5 separate regions of the Homo sapiens genome follow, and all the other regions are linked to region 5. The links come from fine-mapping of genetic effects on gene expression. A gene starts in region 5. Each other region holds a variant in brackets. All regions are shown on one strand. Distances are between the middles of the regions.

Evidence for each region. PIP is the estimated chance that this variant, and not a neighbour inherited with it, causes the effect.
Region 1: its variant is fine-mapped to the expression of C1orf115 in lymphoblastoid cells (GTEx, PIP above 0.99).
Region 2: its variant is fine-mapped to the expression of C1orf115 in atrial appendage (GTEx, PIP above 0.99).
Region 3: its variant is fine-mapped to the expression of C1orf115 in whole blood (TOPMed, PIP above 0.99).
Region 4: its variant is fine-mapped to the expression of C1orf115 in whole blood (INTERVAL, PIP above 0.99).

The regions. Positions count from the first base shown.
Region 1 is chr1:220,715,400-220,720,505 of GRCh38, forward strand. No RefSeq gene overlaps it. Among named protein-coding and RNA genes, the nearest start is that of C1orf115, 28 kb to the left of the region's middle. The variant G/A (reference allele first, on the strand shown) is at 2,676.
Region 2 is chr1:220,795,212-220,800,317 of GRCh38, forward strand. It overlaps MTARC1 (mitochondrial amidoxime reducing component 1), which reads left to right. Exons shown (of 7, transcript NM_022746.4): 3 at 1,432-1,594; 4 at 2,663-2,803. Among named protein-coding and RNA genes, the nearest start is that of MTARC1, 11 kb to the left of the region's middle. The variant G/T (reference allele first, on the strand shown) is at 2,495.
Region 3 is chr1:220,730,800-220,735,905 of GRCh38, forward strand. No RefSeq gene overlaps it. Among named protein-coding and RNA genes, the nearest start is that of MTARC2, 15 kb to the right of the region's middle. The variant C/T (reference allele first, on the strand shown) is at 2,493.
Region 4 is chr1:220,743,549-220,748,654 of GRCh38, forward strand. It overlaps MTARC2 (mitochondrial amidoxime reducing component 2), which reads left to right and starts at 4,774. Exons shown (of 8, transcript NM_017898.5): 1 at 4,774-5,106. The coding sequence starts at 4,984. LOC124904516 (a long non-coding RNA gene) reads right to left here. Exons shown (of 2, transcript XR_007066884.1): 1 at 4,271-5,106; 2 at 772-3,215. The variant T/C (reference allele first, on the strand shown) is at 2,063.
Region 5 is chr1:220,688,082-220,693,187 of GRCh38, forward strand. C1orf115 (chromosome 1 open reading frame 115) reads left to right here and starts at 2,282. Exons shown (of 2, transcript NM_024709.5): 1 at 2,282-2,630. The coding sequence starts at 2,322. RefSeq lists a silencer at 2,113-2,352.

The sequences.
Region 1 (5,106 bases), 27 kb after region 5:
AATATCACAAGTTATGAATGGAATTGCTGGGTTATTGGCAACTCCATGTAGAACATTTTGGAAAAACTGCCAAATTTTTTTCCATAGTGGCTACATCATTTTACATTACCATCAGGAATGTATGAGGGTTCCAGTTTATCTACATCTTCACCAGCATTTATTGTTATCTTTTTTATTATAGCCATCTTAGTGGGTGTGAGGTGATATTTCACCATGGTTCAATTTTTGTTTCCCTAATGATTAATGATGTGGATTGTCTTTTCTTATGCATGTTGGTCATTTATGTATCTTCTTGGAGTACTACCTATTCAAATGCTTTGTTTTAAAATTGAGTTACTTTTTCTGATTGTTGAGTTGTAGCAGTTCTTTATATATTCTGCATACAAGTCCCTTATATAATAAGATCTATAATGTGCCAATATTGTCTTCTACTCTGTGGGGTGTCCTTTCAATTTCTTGATGGTGTCCTTTGAAGTACAAAAGTTTTTAATTTTGATTTGTGAACTCCAAATATCTGAGAGGGTCTCAGTTAATTTAGAAAGTTTATTTACAAAGTTTGTTTTGCCAGTGTTGAGGATGCATGCCCATGATATAACCACACAAAGTCCTGATGACATGTGCGCACGGTGGACTCATGGAGAGCTAAAATGTCCGTGAATATCAAGCAAAACAGGAATTAACTGCATGGACTGTACTCATCTTTTTGACTTATTGCTTAAAACATTGCTGATCCTTTGTTTTGTTTTTCGGAGTCTTGAAACTTTTCTTTTGAGCTATTGACAGCTTTTAACAATTGAGTACACTCCTATGAACAAAATTTGGAGCATATTTGTTTCTCTCTACCTGATTTCTGAAGAATTTGGAAACTATTTGTGAGTATTCTTAACTTACGACAATACAGTTATTTGCATAAGTGCAATAAGAATCTGTTCTCATTTGTAAGAGGACACAATTGGAGAAACTGGTTATTTTACCAAGGCTTTGACTGGAATGGCATGCTTTCCTTAAGGAATAAAACCTGACTTATGCAGCCAATAAAAGCCCTTGGGAAAACTGGCCTCATACTTTGTCTACAGAGTCCCTGTACAGGGTTTCTGACCTGTCGTTAGTAAAGAATGTCACCTTCTGACAGGCCCAGGAGCCCTAGGTTTATCTTGGAACCTCAAGAGGAGAGGTAATTCACCCAACTCATAGGTATTTGGTGGTGGCACAAATCCATCGCGGGGTTCGGCTTTAAAAATGTCTTGATATTTCTTCTATGGAACAAAGTTTCATCAAAGCCAATTTTAAAAAGCCTATGTGAAAAATAATTATTCTTGCTGTACTTTATACAAATAATCTGGACAGGTAAAATAAAGCAGGTTGGTCCTACCATGATTTGTCTTTAGTGAAAATGGGAAACTGGAGAGAGAGAAAAAATATGTTTCAAAAACTATAGTACACTTGTTGTTAGATTCTAGTCTTGCCTAATGTTTTTCAATTTTTATTATTTTCTACAGTTTGGGCTGAACTCTAATTTTTCCTGGCTACAAGTCTACAAAATAACATTTTCAATATTTTTTTTCTTTCTTTTCTTTTTTTCCCCAATTTTTCCTAATTTGAAATCACTGAAAACTAAGCTGTGTTTCTTAAAGCCCTGCAAACTGAAGCTAGACAACTTAAACTTCAGAAGAAAATAACAGCATCCCATTTACATACATAAGCCACTTTCCAGGATCATTCTTTTGTTTGCTGTTGTTTTTCTCCCTTCCTCCCCTTATTTTCTCTTTATAGGACATGAGACTTCATAACCTGCTAAAAATGAACTTTTGGGACCTACCTGTCTAGGAATAAACCATCCTTGCCATGAGAGATCAGATGAAACCTGAAATCAGAGACTCATTTTCTTCTAAAATACTTTCTCTAAAAGATTTTAAAAAAGAATAGGGGGGAAGTGTGAAAGGAAAATCTTGGGGCCCCCAAATTACTGAACTAAAGGTAAAAGTCAAGCTGGGAACTGGTCAGGGCAAACTTGCTTCCCATTCTATTCAAAGTCATCCCTCTGCTCACTGAGATAGATGCGTATGTGATTGCCTCCTTTGGAAACGCTTATCAGAAATTCAGAAGGATGTAACCCTTTGTCTCCCACCTCCCTGTGACCTGGAAGCCCCCTTCCTTGCTTCGAGTTGTCCCCGTCTTTCCGGATGGAACCAATACACTTTTTACATATATTGATTGATGCCTCGTATCTCCCTAAAATGTATAAAACCAAGCTGTGCCCCTTTTTCCACTGTTCTGATGTCACAATCTCCAAAGTTATTAGAAACCTGCATTCAAGGGCACCAGTTATAGCTGATTATAAAACAACTGTCTAAACAGTACCAAAGCAAGAGAACAATTGTCTGTGGATGACAAAATGTTTTAGGGCCACCATAGTCAAAGACACAATTGGCAAGAAAGTTTGTTACCTTTGTGGCACATAATAATTTTAACGTGACAATTATGATTATTACTGATAATGTACACTTAGTCATATCAGAATTACAGGAGTTGCCCATAATTTTGGAACACATACAAATAACATATTTACACAAATATGGCCCAAAGAAAACCAAACACTGTTTCATACTGAGGGAAGAGAGAGACCCTCTCCTATTGTTTGATATTGTTTTACACTCAGAAAAGGAAAGAGAAGC[G/A]AAACTAAAGGCAGGTAGCCTGGCGCCTAGGAACCAGACCCAAAACCAAGGAACCAGATCTGAAACCAGGCCTGGGCCTGCCTGACCTAAGCTGGGTAGTTAAAGATCGACACCTGACCTAGCAACTGTTGTTATCTATAGATTCCAGACACAGTATGGAAGGACGTTGTGAAACCTCCCGTTCTGTTCTGTTTCACTCTGACCACTGGTGCTTGCAGCCCCTGTCACGCAGCCCCCGGCTTGCTCAATTGATCACGACCCTCTCACGTGGACCTCCTTAGAGTTGTGAGCCCTTAAAAGGGACAGAAGTTGAGCACCTGACGAGCTCGGATTTTAAGACGCTAGTCTGCCGATACTCCCAGCTGATTAAAGCCATTCCCTTCAGTGTCTCGGTGTCTGAGGGGTTTTTTCCATGGCTGGTCCTGCTACATTTCTTGGTTCTCTGACCAGGAAGCGAGGTGATTAATGGACGGTCAAGGCAGCTCCTTAGGCAGCTTTAGCCTGCCCTGTGGAACATCCCTGAGGGGGACTCCAACCAGCCGGAGCGACACGGATCCTGAGAGTGCTCCCGGGTAGGCATTTGCCCCGGTGGGACACCTCACCAGAGCAGTGTGTGGCACGCCCCTGTGGAGGATCAACGCAGTGGCTGAACACCGGGAAGGAACTGGCGCTTGGAGTCTGGATATCTGAAACTTGGTAAGACTAGTCTTTGGAACTTGCCCACTCCATTTGAGTGGAAGCATGGCCTGATCACCCATGGTGTGCCTTTATCAGCACTTTGGTATTGGTTTTGACTTGGTTTGAATTGCTTGATAGGACTGGTCTTCGGAACTTGCCCACTCCATTTGAGTGGAAGTGTGGCCTGATCACCCACGGTGTGCCTGTACCGGCACTTTGGTTTTTGTTTTTGACTTGACTTAGGTTGCTTGATACTTTGGTTCTGGTTTTGACCTGGCCTGGATTTCTGGATACTCTGATTTTGGTTTTGATTTTGGTTTGGTGTAAACCGCAAAAGTGTGTGTGTGCCCTTTTTACCTGTTCTTTGTTTTGTGGTGTATGTGTGGTGTGAGTGTGGTGTTTTGTCTTGAAGAAGCATGGGTCAGGCACAAATAAGCCCACCCCGCTAGGAACTATGTCGAAAAAATTCAAGAAAAGATTTAAGGGAGATTACGGTGTTACTATGACACCAGGAAAACTTAGAACTTTGTGTGAAATAGACTGGCCAGCATTAGAGGTGTGTTGGCCATCAGAAGGAAGCCTGGACAGGTCCCTTGTTTCAAAGGTATGGCACAAGGTAACCTGCAAGGCAGGGCAACCAGACCAGTTTCCGTACAGAGACACTTAGTTACAGCTGGTTTTAGACCCCCTTTCCCAAAACAGTAGTTAAGTGAACAGCAGCATAAGCGGCTGGCAGAGGCAAGGAAAGACCAGCAGAGAGAAAGAGAGGAAAGAGACAGAGAGAAAAAGAGGCAAAGAGAGAGAGGAAGAGACAGAGAGACAAAGAAGGAGTCAAGAAAAGAGAGAGGCAGAGAGAGAGGCAGAAAGAGAGGAAGAGACAGAGGCAAAAGGAAAGTCAAAGAGAGAGAGAGAGAGAGAGAAAGTCAAAGAAAGAAAGAAAAAGAGAAAGAGAAATATACAAGTAGTTAAGAAAAAAACAGTATACCCTATTCCTTTAAAAGCCAAGGTAAATTTAAAACCTATAATTGATAATTAAAGGTATTCTCCATAACCCTGTAACACTCTAATACCACTTTGTTGTCAGTGTAAACAAGGGCATATCCCGAAAGCACTGAGGTCTTCCTATCAAAAATCCTTAATCCAGTAACCCGTGGATGGCCCAGATGCCTTCAATCTGTAGCGGCAGCTGCTTTGCTAACGGGAAAAAAAAGGGCCATCTATACTAATTCTAAGTTAATTTAGACTAAACGAGGTCTTATTAATAGCAAAGGATAACTGAAATCCCAAACTTACAAGGTTTTCAACAAAAGTAAAGTTTGCTAAAGTTAACAGTGTAACATGTATTACAGTAACTTCTAATCTTGTGGCCGTAGACAATCTAGTCCACAGACATAAAGAAAGTTCGCTTTAAAAAAAAAAAAAAGAATGGTTATCTTCAAAAAAAGAAAAAAGGAAAAAAAGGGGGAGGCAGAATTTACATAAAAGAGTGTTATATGGTAAATTCTTGTCCTGAAATAAATTAACTGGTTGTTTAAAGAAAGAAATGTTTATAATAAGTCAGAAAGTTGAGACATGTCGAAGAATTGTCTGTGAAAGTCATGAAAGAAAAAAGGTTATAAAAAAATTTTATGCAAAAAATGTTGTATAATTTAAAAAGCAATAAGGCCTCCTGAGTAGTATTGAAGAAACAGTTTTATGTGCAAGGTGTATAAGAAAAGTAAAATATACCTTTGGTAAAAGGAATATAAGGAGG
Region 2 (5,106 bases), 110 kb after region 5:
TAAGAATTGTTTGGGGACTTCTTACGGATTGTTCCTAATCCTCACAACAAAGTTCTGCTTCTACCCCCATTTTATTGATGAAGAAACTGAGTCTCAGAATAAGAAACTATCACCAAGGCCATGGAGCTAGTCATTTGTGGAAATGGAATGCTCACCCAAGTAGATTTACTTGATCCACTAAGCTTTCTCAAACTTCCAGCATTTGCATAACACCACGATGATAGTAGGCCAAACCATAAACCACCTGTACTCTTGTTTACTTAATATTTCTCTTTAAATTGATTCAGCTTATAAACTAATCTTAAACACATTTATTTAAAAAAGAAACTTTATGTAGTTACCTATATAATTTGCCAAGTATACGGCTTTGTATGGCTACCTATATAATTTATATATATGGGTTTATATATAAATTTATGTGGCTACCTATAAACCTTATATGGCTACCTGTATACAAACTTTATATGGCTACCTATATAATTTGCCAGAAAGTAACCAACACTCAATATGCTAAAACATTACTAAATTCTAGCTAGAAGCTGTTGCCTACAGAGGTCTCTGGACCTAAGGTGTGTTCTTTCTTTGTTAAAAGAGGAGATTATCAAGTGTTGCTAAAAGGTAAAGATTTATTACCACTAAACTGAAATTTCTCTCTGTGCAATTCACTGTTATTTAATGCTATACCCAGGTGCCATCTACAGTTATCTTGAATGCCAGCAGTGGTAATGGTCTTGCATTTTGTGAAACACTGGCCTACACCATAGCATTTATTTTCCTCTCCATAGCTGTGAAATTCATATAACGCCAAACAGCCCTGCACAGGACTATGTGCTGGGGAGTGGGAACTTCAAATCCTACAAAGTTATAACTTGCAATCAAATCCAGTAGATTATTATTGTTATTATTAAATAAATATAATATTATTGTTAATGATTGTTATATATATAGTTATTATCTGTAATGTTTTAGGCTTTATAGAACATTTTCATATTGTTGCTGTACTATACTGGCAAAGCATAGCCAGGCCTGTGAATAAAGATTTCTGGTCGCTATTCAGCTGGGTGAACTAGATTTTGCAGTAATTCTAAGTTTACTTTATACTGATACATTAGTTTTCTTCTGGAGAACTCAGTACATTTTTAAATATATTATTTCATTTCATCCTCCCTGCATTCCTTCCAGGTAGGGAGACACAGTTGTACAAAACTTGATTTTTAAAATGAGGAAAGCAATGCTTAAAGGGGTGCTTTCATTTTCATTTGGCCTTACACAGGTTTGGAGTCAGGACCAGGACTAAAATTACATCTTCTGATAATTAAGAAATGACAGTAATGTTACAGCTAGGAGCAGCTTTTCTGATATAGCTGGCACATATTAGGGTGCATGGATTTTCAAAGCCATGTCTGCCCTTTGCTCCTGCTACCCCTGCAGAGTGCACGGCCTGGAGATAGAGGGCAGGGACTGTGGCGAGGCCACCGCCCAGTGGATAACCAGCTTCCTGAAGTCACAGCCCTACCGCCTGGTGCACTTCGAGCCTCACATGCGACCGAGACGTCCTCATCAAATAGCAGACTTGTTCCGACCCAAGGACCAGGTGAGAGGTTCTGCTGCCTCCATGGGTAGAAAGCAGTCACCCCCAGATCAGGGGGCTCAGGTGGCATCTCTGATGACCTCGGCTCTGTTGTTTTCTGGGGCAGCCCTCTGGTAGCTCAGATCACAAGCAGTAGGCAGAAATAAAGCCCTTCCCTTGGAAGCATTGTTTGTTTCTTTGTTTGGGGGACTCTTGAATTTTTGCCCTTGAGCATCTACCTTCCTATTTGTGTAAGCATTCTGATGCCAGTAGGGTTTCAAAACTGTTCTGCACCAGTGTCTTTTTTTCATTCCATTCTGTAATTGCACATGGAGTCCAGAATTTTTACAGTTTGCAGTTGTATGTCAGATTCCAATTGTGCAAGTTGGCATGGGTATGGAGATACACAGACTCAAATGATCAGCCTTAATGGCATAAAGCTCTAAGGATTCATCATAAAAGCAGGGTTTGTAGTACCATATACTGCTTTTACCATGGCCATAAAAAAAATAAATTATGCTGTAGTCCTTACTGCTAAGGAGGCTGAGGTGGGAGGATTGCTTGAGTCCAGAGAGTTGAGGCTGCAGTGATCTGTGATGGCACCATTGCACTACAGCCCAGGTGACAAGGAGTCTCTGTCTCAAAATATATAAATAAAGAAACAAGCAAATGCATAAATTATGGTCAACATAAATATTAATTTGTAAGTTGCATAAAATAAGTATTCATGGAATTAGTGAACATTTAAATCAAACATAATGAGGTCATCAAACTCAACCACCTTATTAAACATTTGAGAAATGGGAGGCTTAGAAAGGTTCAGTGATGTCCCCAAGGGCACATGCCTTGTGGCAGCTTAGGATTGATTCTGAGTCCTTGTTCCCTTCATTCCACCATGCAGTTTCTGCTATCTGCAAGGCTATT[G/T]AAAACTTCTGAGTCACTGTGACTTCTATTAAAAGAACAAGAGAACTACTTTGAAAGATTGTGTGTGGGGTGGGGTGGAGCATGGAGGCTATGTCTAGGAACTAGGCACACCTAACCACTGAAAAGTTGGTGTGCCATGTGTTATAACAATGTCTATTTCCTTATCAGATTGCTTACTCAGACACCAGCCCATTCTTGATCCTTTCTGAGGCGTCGCTGGCGGATCTCAACTCCAGGCTAGAGAAGAAAGTTAAAGCAACCAACTTCAGGCCCAATATTGTAATTTCAGGATGCGATGTCTATGCAGAGGTAACACTATGCCCCTTTGGATCTTTCCTTGGATTTGACTTCTTTTTTAAGGTATGAGAGTCTTTGACATTGGATTAGATTATTCTGAAGGGTGCATTATTTATCAACTCTGTAATACATAACAATTTGATTTTTAGATTTATTCAGCACTTAATAAGTGCAGACTTCTGTGTGGAGGATACAAATGTTGATGGGTCAGAGACTGTCATCAAGGAGGCAGTTCAGTATCTAAGGCTTCTAAGGAGAATTCTGAGTTGACAGGTTCGTTGTTGAGTCACATTTTCTTGCATAGACTACATGATCTGTGTGGGCCATGGAACAAAGAAAGTGTGTGCTCCTGTCTTGTTAAAGGATGGTCTTACTGTTTAGTAGACGGCTCTCTTGGAGAAGACAGGCATTTACTGCAAGGCTGCTGGGTGAGGGTTGGGAGAGGTTGTTGCCCCTAAGCTTCATGGCACTACCCTGAAATGCTTGCAGTGCCACCTTCCATCTGCCCTCAGATGTTTGCGTGGTGACTTAGCTTGAACAGCCCTGAGGCTTGGTTTCTGGGATTCCACAGGATTCTGGCAGCAAATTTACCTTTGTAATAAATGGCCTTTGGCTATTTAACTTGATTCTCTCCCTGGGCTTCCATGAAGGCAGAGGTTGGTGGCCTAGAGGCATGGTGAGTGGCCACCAGCTGTGGATACTCAACAGAAACCCTGACCCACAGCTAGGAATTCAGGAGCTCTGGTTGTGCCTCAAATTTATGTTGAGAAGGGAGAGGTAAAGGGGACCATATAGTGGTTCTTACGTCTGCCCATTTCCTCCATAACAGGGAAAAATGGAATCAAAGCAATTGAGTTTTAACCTTTTATCCTCAGAGGAGCCAATTATATTCTTCACTTTTGCTGTACGGAGGCAAAACTATGCTGAAAGAGAAATAATCTAAGAATTTGATTCCCACATTCAAACCAGAAGATGTGACGGCTGGTTTCAGCTTCTGCACTGGCTTCTGCATGACTTTGAGCAGCCCCGCTAAGTCCCATTTACCTTGCCTGAACAATGAGATGATCATATTTCTGCCTAGGGTTACCTTAAGGGTCTGTTGAAGGGTCAGTTTGGATAATGTAATTTATGAGATGTATAAAAGCAATATCAATCGATGGAGGATAATAAAAGTACGCCCAAATCCACTGCTAATGCTTCATATAAAATACTCATTGCTCCAAACTTCCAAGGGTAGCGTTTCTTCTAAAGATGGTGGAGAACTTCCTAGTGTGAGGCGGGTGGACTGTGTGCATGTCCCCCAAGGTCCTGGGTTGGGCATCTCTCAGTGCTTCTTTGTGACAAGAAATTTCTGCCTGTCCTGCTCCTGTGCACCATGGGCCAGCCTGACTTAGACAACAGGAAAATAATCAGTGTTTGGTTGCCTTTGACCATCTCCTTGATATTCATCTTCCACCAGCTATGGCTAGGAGAGCCATTTCTCCTGAGAACGTTCCTTCTCAGGAAAAGAGAAATGAGTGGGGAGGGTTTTGAATGAATACTTGTGTTGCGCTTAAGTATGTTGTCTCTTCTATGCCTCACGGCAGCCCAGCGGGATAAAGCTATCATTCCTATCTTACAGGAGAGAAGAGAGAGGCTTGGGGAGGTGAGGTGGCCTGCCCTAGGCTATACCACAGCAAGGAGGGGCTGGGTTTTGAACCCCAATTGTACAAGGCCAGAGGAACCCTGAGAATTCTAGGGCATATGTATGGGGCTGGGACAGCTGGATTCTAATCCACCTGCTTCCGCAAGTGACCGTACAAGCCTGGACAGGTCACCAAACTCGCCGAGGCATCTGCTTCTTGCAGTTGTAAAACACGGGCAGTTTCAATGACTCCCTCGCCTGATGGGAGCTGTGAGAATCAAGGTCGATGACAATTTGTGGAAAAGTTCTAGGACATTAAGTACCACAGGGAGGTAAGGAAGAGTTTCATTCCTGGGAGTTTGGCTCAGGTACCAGCTTTTTCCCTATGATCGACTTTAAGCTTTCTTTCTCCCCTGTGTGATTTGTGCACCGAGGGTCATGCTGAAGCCATTTCCACCCCAAAATTCTGTGACAGTAAGATTCGGATGACAGGAGAAGAGGAGATGGCCCAGAGTAGAACTTCAGATCTCGGAGATTTCTTTCAATTGAGTCTTACTCTAAAAACCCGTATCTCTCTCTCTATCTCTGAGTGTTCCCTAGTTGAGAACATTCTGTATGTGAAGCTGGGCGGTAACACAATGGTGGCTGAGCCGGCCTTGTTTTTAGTAATTCACCCATCATCGAGTGGGTT
Region 3 (5,106 bases), 43 kb after region 5:
AATTAGCACAGGACCCAATGAATCCACTCCAATATAGACCCATGAGTACTGAAAATATGTTATCTTACAAGAATTAGCCAGGTGTGGTGGTGTGTGCCTGTAGACCCAGCTACTCAGGAGGCTGAGCTGGAAGGACTGCTTGAGCCCAGGAGGTCAAGGCTGCAGTGAATTGTGATTGTGCCACTGCACTCCAGCCTGGGCAACAGAACAAGGCCTGACTCAAAAAAAAAAAAAGAAAAGAAAAGAAAATATGTACATGAGTGTTCATAGTAGTATTATTAATAACAGCCAGAACAAAGTTCATCAACTGATGACTAGATAAACAAAATGTGGCCTATCCATATGATGAAATATTATTCAGCTATAAAAAGGAATGTTCTGTTGTTATATGCTGTATGCTCAGGGATGAAACATGGAAACATTATGCTAAATAAAAGAAGTCAAACACAAAAAGCCACATATTGTGTCATTCCATTTATATGAAATGTCCAGAATAGGCAAATCCTCAGAGACAGAAAGCAAATTAGTGGTTGCCAGGGGATAAGGGGAGCAGAGCTGGGACTGACTGCTATAGGTATGAGGTTTCCTTCTGTGGTGATAGAAATATTCTGGAATGAGAAGTGATCGTTGCATAATAGGGTGAATATACTACAAAACAATGGAATGTTGATATGGTTTTGTTGTGTCCCCACGCAAATCTCATCTTGAATTATAGCTCCCATAATTCCCACGTGTTGTGGGAGGGACTCGGTGGGAGATAATCGAATCATGGGGGCAGTTTTCCCCATACTGTTCTTGTGGTAGTGAATAAGTCTCACAAGATCTGATGGTTTTATAGGGGGTTTCCCCTTTTGCTTGGCTCTCACTCTGTCTTGCCTGCTGTCATGTAAGATGTGCCTTTCACCTTCCGCCATGTTTGTGAGGCCTCTCCAGCCACATGGAACTGTGAGTCCCTCAATCCTCTTCTTCTTTATAAATTACCCAGTCTAGGGTATGTCTTTATCAGCAGCATGAAAATGGACAAATACAATTGTACACTTTAAAATGGTACATTTTATGTTTTGTGAGTTGTATCTTAATTTTAAAAAAGACCATAACAATGCTTACAACCTACATGCTGTAGAGTAGATCATACTTACGTCATTATTTTCTGGTCATACTTAGGAAAGAGTAAAGACTGTCACAGAATAAATGAATGAATGGACGAATCAATTGATGAACTGATGAATAAGTAGAATGAAAGGGAGCCTGGGAAACAGAGGTCTTTTGTGACTAAACATGGGTGAGGAGACACTTCGTATAATTTTTTTCTTGGGCGAGTAGTAGAACACAGAGAGGTTGGAGGGAAACACTAGCAGGACTTGACTTTACAGGGAATTTGTTTTGGAAAGGATGTCCCCAAGCAAGGAGATTCTCTTCCCTTCCCAAAACACTGTATCCTGCCATAGCCTTCTTCCACTCTGAGTGGGGCACGTGCTGCCAAGATGAAAAGCAAATCTCCCTGTAGCAGCCAAAGAAAACAAACACAGAAAAAAAGCAAATGAAAACTGGGAGAGGAAGCAGGATTCTGCATCCTGGTTGATAACATCGTCAAAATCAAAGCCACAAAGACACACAGTCAGGGCCACTGATAGAGCTTAGGGGCCATCCAGGGCAGGGTTGACCAGAGGTGAGAAGGTCCCCGGACCCTCAGTGTCATCAGCCCAAGCCCCCATAATTTTGTAACTAATATTGATGGAATAACAGGGCCCTTCCCATATACAGGTTAAGACCCAACAGATGCCTCGGGTAATTTATTTACTTAACAAATACAAACTGAGATTGACTGTGCCTGAGATACACAGGGAGAGGCACAAGTCCCAGCCAAGGAAGGGCATCTTCTAGGTAGGAAGTTTCCTGGGACTGATCTCTCAACTTATTTCTTCTGGCCTGTCCCTTCCTCTCGCCACATATTCTTGGCACCCTGTCCTTCTCCAGGGCCTTTCCCCCTCCTCCTCCTCCCCTAAAAAGGAAAGTGTGAGGAAGCAGCCATGGGACCTCCCCTTTCTGGCTGGGTAGGCGCTCCTAGGTGAGACGAGGAACTCTGAGTGGCTCGGCTATTGCAGGAGCAAGTGCCTTCTCCTACTTCGGACATGGGATTGCTGTGAGGACCGAATAGCCTTCTGCTTCCGACAGAGTTTTATAGACTGCAAAGTATTATTCAAATGGCAGGGAAAATAGAAAAGTGTGGCATTGTTTCTCCCACACTTTTCTATGACTTCTGACATTTCAAATATAGTATTCCTCCTATTTCAAAATACTCTTAGTCCCGACTCTTCACTGAGTTGGGTAACAGGAGGTTGTTCCTTAGGACTTACTCACCAGAAAGGAAAGGAGGGTTTCCTTTCACTTCCGGTTAGAACCAGCTTCAAGCATTTCCTCCCCACCCTTCCGTCCAAAACCCTGATCACAGCGCCCCCTCGTGTAAATCCGGAGCAACTGCCCGGGAAATC[C/T]CCCGTCTAACCCGGGCCAAAGTCAAAAGCTGAAGGAGGGGGTCCGGTTGAACTCTGGGTGGGCGGGAACTGGGGCTCCTACAGGGCGGTGATGCCTACAGGGGACAGGCTCCAGTCAGGTCCGTTTGCTTCTCATTATGCTGAATATAGACCTCATATTGCCAGATATTTTGATTTTAAAAGACAAGCTAGACACTTCCCGATTAAAACAACTGTGTAAGCCAAATAAAACAAGCTATGGGCCAGGCTGTGGGGGGGCTGCAAACCGTCAGGAAGCTTTGATTTCTTGTGGAAAAGATGAAACATTGATGATAGTTAATCCCAACACATTGACAAGGAGCGATCCTGGTAACAGAAGATATCTTATATGATATATAAAAATCACAACTGTGAACATATTTGACAAGGAGAAAAAAAGAACAAACATTCTTAACATACTTGCTTCTGAGTTTTCCCATCTATATTTGCTGGCTATATACTGATTTTCTTAACTTCCTATATTAACCAGAATAAAACCAGAAAGTTTCAGTAAAAATTATGGGGAAAAAAACTCAAAATAGAAAAAGAAATTCCCATTAATTTTTTTCCCCACTATTTGGAGATAAAATCCATTTTCCTAAAGGTACATATTCACCAACTTCCAGAATGCCAATGCCCATGAAGGGTTTTTTGAGCTTTCTGGGGTAGAAATTCATAGTTCTTAAGACAACAGGCAAAGCCTGCACAATTTGTTCTCATCCCGACTGTTAGCCTCACCTCCTGTCATTCCCTTTGCTGGTCCGATCATCATACGAAACTATTTTCCTCCAAAAACATTTCTTTTTTTTTTTGGAAAATTGTATTTCTCGTTGATTAATTGCTTTTACTCTCTTTTCCATTTTTGAAGCTCCTATGCATGCGTTCTTCGTATCCCAGTTTACATGTTACCTCCCACTAACCTTCAAGCAGAATAAGCTGCCCAGCCCACAACATGCACTTTCAAAGCTCTAAGCCCATATCTTTAGGAAAACAATTACTATTTTTCTTATAATTATTTGTTTACACATGTTTTGATATTGGGAATCTACCTAAAGCTGTGTTGTGTCACCGATGAGCCATAAAACTTTAAAAATATCTAGTAGATTGTAGGCTGATAGGGAATATTTGCTGTTTCGCTCTCCCAGAGCCTAGTACACCACCAGAATCATTGCATTGGATTTTTAAATAATTTTATTTTTGAATTTTTTGAACAAGTAATACTTTTCACAGTTCAAAATTCAAAAAGCTTAAGTATACAAATGAAAACTTTCCATTATATTCATGTTTCCAGCCACCCAGTTTCTCTTCTTATTGGTACATGATGTTACTCACTTATGTGGAATGAAGTCCACATTCCTCTGCGTGCAGTATAATTTTTTCTACCATCTGTGCTTGTTTACCTTCCTAGTACACTCCTCTCTCCTGGCCTTTGCTCTCTACTTTCCAGCCAGGATTGAAGTGGCTATTTCCCGATATGCTACCTTAGCGATTTACTGGCTTCTCAAGATCAGACACTCTATCTTCCTCTATCATTATTAAAGACTACATACTAGCATCTAGCGTATAGCAGGGCGTGAATGAAAGTTGCTCACGCTTGGACAACAACTGACCCTTGTGCTTGTTCTCCTGGAGCCCTTTTGAGCTCTTAGCCGCCTCAGATGTTGTTCTGGGACACACGTTTGGCCGTTGAGGCATTACTTCCCTGGGTATCCTGATGACAACCCCCAAACCTAACCTAATCTGAATGTGTGTCTTCTCCTTGCAATCTAAAGAGGTGCCCGACTAATACACAAGTAACTCTCCCTGAGCTGAGCTGGTTTGTTCTCCCAGGTCAAATCCTCACAGGGAGGAAGAGAAACTTGTGGGCATGCAGAGATGTTAGTCACTATGAATGGATAAAACGGCACAGGGATACATATTATACATGTGTATAATATGTATAAATGTTTATATTTATATAATATGTAAGATATAATTTATAGTATGTATTATATGTAAATATGTATATATGTAAATATATACTATAAATTATGTATATTCTAAATATATATTTATAATTAATAATTAATTATACTATATAACTATGTACTTATATAATATATTTCTATTAAATAAATGTAAATATATAATATATATTTATATTAAATAAATAGAAATATATTACATATAAATCTATATGTATATAAGTGTGTGTATATATATTTTTTGTTACAAGGCCCTAAAGGCCCTAAACAAGGCTACATTGATTTTTAAAAATTAACATTGTACTTACTAATGTTTCAAGTTAAAAAATATTCTTTAACTTTGAAGATCACTATACATAGCTTATCATTTCATTCTCCCCCTTCCTTCCTTCCTTTCTTGTTTTCAATCACTTTTTTAAGGGGACTTTTGTTTTTGACACAGTCTTGCTTTGTCACCCAGGCTGGAGTGCAGTGGCATGATTATAGCTCACTAAAGCCTCAAACTCCTGTTTTTATTTTAATTTTTAATTTTTGTGGGTACATAGTAGGTGTATGTTTTTATGGGATACAAGAGATATTTTGATACAGGCATGCAATGCATAATAATCACATCAGGGGCTGGGCGTAGTGGC
Region 4 (5,106 bases), 55 kb after region 5:
GCAAAGTTCCACAATCGCTGTGCTCTTCCTCCCCCAAGAGCACAGACTCTCTCTTGGCCACTGCCAGGAGACTGGGGAGGGTGGTACTGGCAATTCAAGACTATCTTTCCTACCCTCTTCAGTGCCCCTTTCAGTGATACGAAGTTAAAACCAGGTACTTTGATTGCTCACCTGATTTTTGGTTCTTATAAAGGTACTTTGTAGTATAGATAGTTGTTAAATTGGTGTCTCTGCATGGAGGATGATCTATAGAGGCTGCTAATCAGACATCTTGCTCTGTCCCTGCCACTTGGTTTTATGTGTTCAAGGGAAAGTAGGTGAGAGATCCAATGCCATCTTCCTTTCAAAGCTGAAGGTGCTGACTATCAAGCTTGAGTTTCTAATCTGGTGCTTTCAGCCCTGGTCATGTGGCTGGATTTTCATAGTCACTAGGGCATTTTGACTTCCTAGCCATGGTTCTTCTTCCACTATATATATATGCTTAATATCCATTCAAACTCCTGAGTTTAAGCGGCTCTTCTGCCTCAGTGTCCAAAGTAGCTAGTATTACAAGCATGCACCACCATGCCTGCCTCATTCTCTCTTTTTCTGTTGTTTTAAATTTTTTGTAGAAACAGGGTCTCATTATGTTGCCCAGGCTGGTCTTGAACTCTTGGGCTCAAGTGATCCTCCTGCCTCAGTCGCCCAAAGCACTAGGATTACAGGTGTGTGCCACTGGGCCTGGCCTAAGGGGACCTTTGATTAATGTTTGGCCTGCATCAAACTGGGATGTAAGTGAGAAATAAACTTTTATTTTGTTAGAGCATTGAGATGTTGAGGTTGTTACAATATTTTAGCCTAGCCTGCGTCATGAGATTTGTTATATGGGTTGAAGGTTGACTATCCTCACTGCCTGATAATCTGATGTGCTCATCTCCCCAGGAAAGACAAACTGCTACATGGCCCTGATGAATACTTCCATTGGCTGCTGGGTACTCACCTTCCTGAAGAGGACCTGGCTAAGCAAGGTAATATTTGGGTTTTAGGCTTCTTTTTTTCTCTGGTTTCTTGGTTGATATTTTAATTGACAGAGTTTTCTTTATCTATGTCAGTGCCTCTAGGCAGACAATGATGTCTTATTCACTAGAAAGATTTTTCCTAAGCAGAAGTTGCCAAAATATGACAAACTAGGGGAAAAAGTTATGACTTGGGAAGGCATGATAAAAGGGTAATTTTCTTAATTTATAAAAGGATCTTATAAATTAACAAAAAAATAGATAAGTTGATTCAAATCAGAAGGGAAAAAAGATATGCAAACAGCCAATTAGACTCATGAATCCTCAACCTTTGATATGGTTTGGATCTGTGTCCCCAACCAAATCTCATGTTCAATTGCAACCCTCAGTGTTGGAGTTAAGGCCTGCTGGGAGGTGATTGGATCATGGGGCTGGTTTCTCATGGTTTAATACCATTCCCCTTGGTGCTATCATCCTGAGAGTGAGTTCTCATGAGATCTGGCTGTTTAAAAGCATGTGGAACCTCCCCCCTCTCTCTGGGTCCTGCTCCTATCATGTAAGACATCCACTGCTGCTTTGTCTTCCACCATGAGTAAAAGCTCCCTGAGGTCTCCCAGAAGCAGAAGCCGCCGTTCTTCCTGTACAGACTGCAGAACTATGAGCCAATTAAACATTTTTTCTTGATAAATGACCCAGCTTCAGGTATTTCATTATAGCAGTGTGAGAATGGACTAATACAGCCTCTCATCACCCCTCACTAATTCTACAAATGAAGATGCTGGGCTGCAAATGTACACATTACTGATAAGGAATTTCCCTGCTCCCCTGAAGGCACCCCCAACCCCAGCATTGGTGAAGCTTAAACAGGGCAGGCTATGATAGATAATGGCTGGTGAAGACAGCAAAGACTTGGCAGCACTCACCATGGCAAAGTTCCTCACTTGATGTCTATCCCCATCATTTTGCACATGAGGAGGTGGAAGCATGGAAAGGTCAAGTTACCCATCTATCTAGGTAACTATTTCTTCTTTGATGTCTCAAAGATACCTCTCACTCGCTGTTCACAA[T/C]AGGCTCATCATCTTTTTTCCCAGACTATCTTCTTCTCTTGAATTCTCTTTTTTTTTTTTTTGAGACGGAGTCTCTCTCTGTCGCCCAGGCTGGAGTGCAGTGGCGCGATCTCGGCTCACTGAAAGCTCCGCCTCCTGGGTTCACACCATTCTCCTGCCTCAGCCTCCCAAGTAGCTGGGACTACAGATGCCCACCACCATGCCTGGCTAATTTTTTGTATTTTTAGTAGAGACGGGGTTTCACTATGTGAGCCAGGATGGTCTCGATATCCTGACCTCCTGATCCGCCCACCTCGGCCTCCCAAAGTGCTGGGATTACAGGTGTGAGCCACTGTGCCCAGCTTCTCTTGAATTCTTAATCTCTGAGAATGGTACCCCCATCCCACCCCAGACTTTTATGCCACAGAGCCAGGAGGCCCCGTGGGCTCTTCCTCTCCCTCTGGCTCTGTGTTCTGTCATCACTATCTCTTGTTAATTCTGTCCCCTGACCATCTCTCCTAACCACATGTCTATCTCCAGCCCCACTGTTATTTTTCCTTGATTTGGAATTACATCAGCCTGAACTAGGGCATTTGCAACTCATCTAACCATCTTTGGTGTTACTCTTTCTCAGAGCAGCCAGAATGGCCTTCCTAGCACCCAAGTCTAATCATGCCAGACTGTTGTTCAGAATTCTGAGGTGTCTCCACATTAAGTAGAGATAAGATGCCTGTTGATCTGACCTCTGCCCACCTGTCCTGCCTCAACTCCCGCCACCTGCTGCATGCACAGGTACATCCTAATACAGCTGGATTGCTGGTGGTTGCCCAAACATGCCACACTCTCTTGTTCCTTCCATTTTTTCAGGCTATTGCACGTGCTGCTCCTTTTGCCCAGAATCCTCTCCTTTACCCATCTCCAAGCCCCTCCTCATGTTCAAGTCTCAGCTCCAAAGCTCCGCCCTCTGAAAACAGCACTGTCCTGAGATTCAGCTGCTCTTTTGCCTCTGCATCCTCTGCATCTTGACCTTGCTTCTCCTCTGACATTATCCTCTAGACTTGCAGGGGAGGTGTCAGTCTTCTGGGGAGTCAGTGAACTGGATGGAAGGGCAGCTTCTTCTAAACTTTAAATCCCCAGTGCCAATCTAGGACGAAGCCTGGTGAATGATCAATATCTATGTGGTGAAAGAAAGAGATGATTAATCAATAAGACATTTGCCCTGTCTGGGAGCTCACGTATAGCGAGGCGATGGCTTTGTAAGCCCCTCACTCTGACAGCAGGCTTGTGGGCAGGGAGGACTCTGACCCTCCTCAGGAGTTGGGAGAGGCAAAGGGGGTCAGCTACAAGTGTACACACATCACATTCACCACACCATGCTTAAAAAACAAATCCATAAGTCGCAGCTGCCAAGCATGATGTAAATGTATGGGGATTGAGGGACTAATTCTGCTGGCCTGAGGTTTTTTCCTGGGTGGGGAGAGATTCAGGCCCTGTTTTGTCTTTCACTTTTCACAAGGAACAGCCAAAGGGAACCTGGCTCCTCTGGTTCTCCATCCTTCCCGGAGTCTCTTCCCACACTCCAGAACGGGCCCCTTTCTCTGGAGGTGGCCAGCCCAGATTTGGGGGGTGGCCCACTGGTTGGCCTCCTTAAACTTTCCTAGAACTGTGCCACAGTTTAAGGGACAAACTTTTGAAAAACAGAACAACAACAAAAAACTTGAAAGACTTCAAACCTTAATTTGTCTGAGAAAATCCACTGTTAACCCAATAGCTTGCTTGAATGGAGGTGTTAAAGATCAACAAAGCCAGACATTAGTTAAACCATGAAAACAGATTTTACTCAGTAACTACTTACAGTAGGAGAAAAAGCTGATCATTCTCATTTGTGCATAGCAGAATGGGCGTTTTAAAGGGTGAAGGAGAGAATAGGGCCGGGAAGCTAGCAGGGGATCAAGTGAAAAATCATGAAGGGGCGGTCAGTATTAATGACGGGCAGCTGTGCCTGGAGCTGGCCGTTATGAAGCTGGGATTCTATCCTCCCACAGAGACTGGGGGACAGAGGCCTATCCTCCCCATGACTGCATTTCAGAGCAATGGCTTTCAGGTCCTTGAGAAAGACACTTCTGAGGTGTAGGCGATACATATACATCTCAAAGCAACAGAGAAAGGATTCACAGTTGTAAGCCCTTTTAAGAAAATATCCTAAAAAAGGGAGGTCAGGGGCTTTACCATCGGGTGTTGGCTAGAATAAACGGGGAATTCTCCTGGCTGCCTTGAGCTTTCTCGGGAAGACATTTTACTGGGGTCGAGGTTAGGCGGCAGCGGAGGGTGGGGGACCTTGAGTCATGCTCCTATAAGCCACGCTAGAGTTCCTCGTCTTTGAGTGCAGAGGTTTAGACTGTGTCTTTGTGTGCAGAAAGTCCTGCAGTTCTCACAGCGACCTGCCAGAAAAAGTCGTTCCCAAATGTTTGTAAATCCTCCGTTGGGCAACCCGCCTTCACGTTCTGCGGTGATCTTGTCGAGCGACTAAGCGTGCAGTATTAGCAGAGAAGGGGGTGGCAGAGTGCTGGCGCTGAAGGTCATGTTGCATGGGTAACTGTCGTGTTGTAGGGGCGGGGAAGAGGGAGGAGACACTGACCACCCCAGAGGCCGCCCCATTAGCTCGCTTGCTTTGGGCGGCGTCGCTCCCACGGCGCCCAGGGTACCCCCGCCGCTGTCTGCCTGTCTTCCTCCATTACCGCGCAGGCTTGGTCACCGCATTAAGGCATTCCCGCTCTCCGCGGAACTGCTCTGCCGTCTCGGCGGTGAAAGTGTGAGAGGGTCCGTAGTTGGGTCAACTTTGACTCCTCTCGCCTGCCCGGATCCTTAAGGGCCTCCTCGTCCTCCCGGTCTCCGGTCGCTGCCGGGTCTGTGCGCCGGTCCGCGCCCGCCCTCGCTCTGCCATGGGCGCTTCCAGCTCCTCCGCGCTGGCCCGCCTCGGCCTCCCAGCCCGGCCCTGGCCCAGGTGGCTCGGGGTCGCCGCGCTAGGACTGGCCGCCGTGGCCCTGGGGACTGTCGCCTGGCGC
Region 5 (5,106 bases):
TCACCTCCCACCAGGCCCCACCTCCAACAGTGGGGATTACAATTCAACATGAAATTTGGTGGGGACATAGAACCAAACTATATCACCATTTGATAAGCAGCCTAGGGTTCTTTGAGGTCGGTTTTGTACAAAAAAAAAAGGGACTACAAGGGTCTCTGTTTGTTTATAAAGTAATAGTTGCTTTAGCAAAATTACAAATCTACAAATCTACTTTCTCTTAACCTTTTAAATTCAAATTACATACTGTTTTAAACTATTTACTCACCCGATAAAATTTTACAATTACTGTAAGGAGGCACTTTTACTGTTTAGTTAATTCTCCTAAACATTTCAAGCAACTTTTACAAATTTAATATTTGACTTTCTTTTCAAGTACTTCAATTCTATAACAAAACTCTAAGTAATTCTTATAAATATAGTAAGTTAAATTCATTTTCATACCCATTTCACCTGAAATTGAATTGTACATAAATTTTATATACTATTTTACATATAAAGACTCTATGTTTTTAAGATTAAATATAAGTCATTACTTATTACCTTATTACATAAGTTAAATAAAAGCGTAAATCAATTAGCTGATTACTTTTTTTTTTTTTTTTGAGACAGAGTCTCACTCTGTTGCCCAGGCTGGAGTGCCGTGGCACGATCTCCGCTCACTGCAACCTCTGCCTCTTGGGTTTAAGCGATTCTCCTCCTCAGCCTGCCGAATAGCTGAGACTACAGGAGCACGCCACCATGCCTGGCTAATTTTTGTATTTTTAGTAGAGACAGGGTTTCACTATATTGGCCAGGCTGGTCTCGAACTCCTGACCTCAGGTGATCCACCGCCTTGGTCTCCCAAAGTGTTGGGATTACAGGTGTGAGTCACCGCACCGAGCCACACATTTTCACTTTTTTAGAAATGGGGCCTACGTTGCTCAGAACTCCTAGCCTCAAGGGATCCTCCCACCACAGCCTGTGGAGTTGCTGGGATTACAGGTGAAAGTCACCATGCTGGCTCACATTTTAAGTTGGAATCACAAAACTAATTTCTTTTGCATCCTAGTGAACTAAATTGTCGTAAACATTGTATGTGCTTATACCAACATATACACGTTATTCTTAAATTTAATCACAAACTTTAATGTTAAAATATCAGTGTATCTAACAATCTATGTTATTTTATACCTAAGTATTTTTTTGAGATGGGATCTCACTCTGTCGACCCCTTTGGAGCGCAGTGGCACAATCATAGCTCACTGCAATCTCCACCTTCCAGGATCAAGCGATCTCCCTACCTCACTGGGACTACAGGTAAACTTTTGTATTTGTTTTTCTATTTCTAGAGATGAGGTCTCCCTGTGTTGCCCAGGCTAGTCTCAAACTCCCAGGCCCAAGCGATCCTCCTGAATAGCTGGGATCACAGGTGTGCGCCCCTACGCCTGGCTAATTTTTTTTTTTTTTTCTAGAGATGGAGGTCTCACTATGTTGCCCAGGCTGTTCCCCAACTCCTGGGCTGAAGCTATCCTCCCGGCCTCTCAAAGTGCTGGGATTACAGGCGTGAGCCACTGCTTTCGGCCCTTAATTCTACATTAGCCAGAATTCAAAGGCATTTACCCACTTAAGAAAATAGGGCACTCTCAGCTTGTTGAGATTCACAGTACACTGATAATGCTTATCTCACAGAGAGATATTCCTGAAAATCATGATTTTAAAGACTGCGCCATATGCTGGCATGTCTGCACCAGAATTTCCTTTGCGCCTCCCTGTTGGTTTGCTCCACTTTTTCACTGAGTCAGACCGTTGAACACCGTGGACACACTGTCTTGCGTTTCCGAATATTTCCTAGAATACGGACGTTTCCTAAGACTCACGATAAAGATTTTCTGATCGTCTCTCCAAAACCTTGCCACCAATTTGCACTCCCACGAATCCTGTTACCGTGACTATCTCGCCATGCCCTCCCTAGCACTGAGCGTGATCTCTAGTATCATTTTCCATCGTTGCTAATTTGAACATGAGCAGATGGAGTCCTATTATTTGGGGTCATTAATTTCGTAGCAAGTGCAGTTGAAGGTGTTTTGCATGTTCATTGTGCAGTGCGCGCCGTAGTCTGCACAGTTTGGCCGGCAGGTGGGATGAAGGGCGGGGCTGGCGGAGCGCGCCCGCCGCCTGGTAGGCCAGTTCGGAGCGGAGCCAACGCTATCCCGGGCCCCACGGCCAGGGGGCGCTGCGGCCCCCCCAATCCCCCGCCCCGTCCGGGCTGGGGCGGAGGAGCGGGCGGGGACCAAAGGTTGGTGTCTTTGCGCTCGGACCTTCGCCAGAGGGGCCGGGACATCATGACGGTGGGAGCCAGGCTCCGAAGCAAGGCGGAGAGCAGCCTCCTGCGCCGCGGGCCCCGAGGGCGAGGGCGAACCGAGGGGGACGAGGAGGCGGCCGCCATCCTGGAGCACCTGGAGTACGCGGACGAGGCGGAGGCGGCGGCCGAGAGCGGGACGAGCGCGGCGGACGAGCGGGGCCCGGGGACCCGGGGCGCGCGGAGGGTGCACTTCGCCCTCCTGCCCGAGCGCTACGAGCCACTGGAGGAGCCGGCGCCGAGCGAGCAGCCCAGGAAGAGGTACCGGAGGAAGCTGAAGAAGTACGGCAAGGTAGGGGCCCTGCGCCACCACTGCCCGGGGGGCGCGGGTGTGGTGTCCCGCGGGGGAGCGGGAGCCGGGTCCTTACCATCGACTCACCCAGTTTCTCCGGGCTGCACCTGCGACCCCTCCGCCCCCGCTCCCATTCCCTCGCCGGAGGGAAGCCGCGAGTTGCGAGTCGTGATAGAAACTTAAATCGGGGGTTGCGCTGGGTGGTCCCTGCTGTGCCTGCTATTGCGCTCCTGGCTTCTTAAGAACATTCTCAAGGGGCTCCTACCGCGGTGGTTTTTATGTAAGATCAGGAATCAGTTTCCTGATTACAGATGGGAATACTGAAGCGTTAGCGCGGCAGGTGACTTGGAGAAGGTGGCCCAGTTGGAAAGAAAGAAATTGCAACCCAGTGTATTTGTTTTCCAGTAACATCCCCTCCAGGATATCCCACTAGTTGAGAAATGTTTGGGTTACTCTCCCAAATATTCCCAAGGTTATTTCCCGAGCCTGGGAGCGCAACAAATACATAAATAGGCGCTCGTTGAATTTTTCTCGTCTAGCCAACTATCAGTGTACTCTGGGGCCTTCAAAACATTCTGCCGTTTGTCTCGGGGAGATGGGGTTAGGAAGAATGAATATGGGAGAAAATGACAGTTTCCTTCGCGGAAATCAAAGCGCAGATGCAGTTCCCAGGTGTCTCTGCATGGAAACAGTCGAAGCTGCTGCCGGAAGCTCTGCTGGCCTGGACAAGGCCACCCAGAATAAAGTCACAGAAGTTACTGTGTCCTGGCCAAAGGCCACGGGCCCCATCTGATTTATTGTCTATTTATCTGTGTTGCCCAATGCCGTCTTACACCTGAAGCCATTCAGTCTCCATGCCTGGGAGCTTAGGTTTATCATCCTCTTTAAAGGTATGTCAGCAGCTTCTGGAGCAGAATACAGGCAGGGGTAAAACTATAAAGTTGGGTCTTTCAGGCTTAGAGCCCTGCTAGGACGATTCATCTCTGCTTTGGGTCCCAGTTGAGCACAAAGAAGCCATCATGTCCCTCTCCATTGGTGAACTGATACTGCAGAAACCTCAGCTCAAGGACTAGGACTTGAAGATATTTTGGGGGCACTCATTATGCGTCAGGCATTGTGCTGAGCAGTAGAGATGCGAAAATGAATACAGTGCAGCCCTGCCCTAGAGAAGGGCACAGCCTCCCAGGGAGACACTGACATAGCTGGCTCCCCCCGCCCCCGGGGGGGCTTCAGGGCACAGAGCTCAGGCAGTTCACTCCTCAGCGGTGAGCTTGTAAACTCAGGGAAGTTTTCAAATCACGGTGACATGAAAACTGGGCACAGAAGGATGAGTTAAGATTTCACCAGATAACAGTGAAGTGGTATGAAGTAGGCACACTTCATCCCCACTAGAACGGCTACTCCAAAAAATGTCCAAACAAACCGAATAACAAATGTTGGCGAGAATGTAGAGAAATTGGAACCATTGTACATTGCTGGTGGGAATGTAAAATGGGACAGCTGCTGTGGAAAACAATTTGGGAGTTCCTTAAAAAGTTCAGTGTAGACTTATTCTGTGATCTAGCAGTTCCACTCCTAGGGATGTAACCAAAGAATTGAAAACAGGTACTCAAATCAATGTTTATATACACATTTTAATGGAATTATTATTTACAATAGTCAAAAGGTGGAAACAACCCAAATGTCCCTAAATGGATGAATGCATAAACAAGTGTGTTATATACATACAATGGAATAGTATTCAGCCATAAAAGGAAGGAAATGTACTAATCCATGCTACAATATGATGAACCTCTAAAAATATTATGCTAAGTGAAGTAAACAAGACCCGCAAGATCACATATTGTGCGTATGATTCCATTTGTATGGAATGCTTAGGATAGGTCAACCCATGGAGATGGAACACAGATTGGTGGTTGCCAGGGACTGCGGGAAAGAGGAATGGAGCCCATCTGCTTAATGGGTAATGTGTTTTTTCCTGGGGATGATGAAAATGTTTTGGAACTAGATAGAAGTGGTGGTTGCACAACAATGTAAATGTACTAAATGCCACCGGGCTGTACGCACTTTAAAATGGTGAATTTTATGTTATGTGAATTTTGCCTTAACTAAAACAAACAAAAAAAACAAGATTTCAGTGGATAGAGAAGTGGTGTCATCTCAGGTAGAGGGGCCATCACAAGCCCAGCTGTGGGCATGAAAGCTCTAGAGTGTTGCACGCTAGTTCAATGGACCCAGGAGGCCAGGTGAGAGGATGTCGTCAGGTTAGGGTTGGATCTCTCCTTTCTGCCCTTCAAAAGTGACTTCAGCTTCTACTTTCTTGGAGCCACCTGAGAGGGTCACCAGGCTCAAACATGGAGATATAAAGCAGGTGACCCCTCTTTGTTCCCCGAGACCCCAGCTCCCCTCTGAGAGAGTAGTTGGGTAGAAAGCTCTACTCAGATCAAAGAATTCCAAATGCACTCTCTTAAATGAC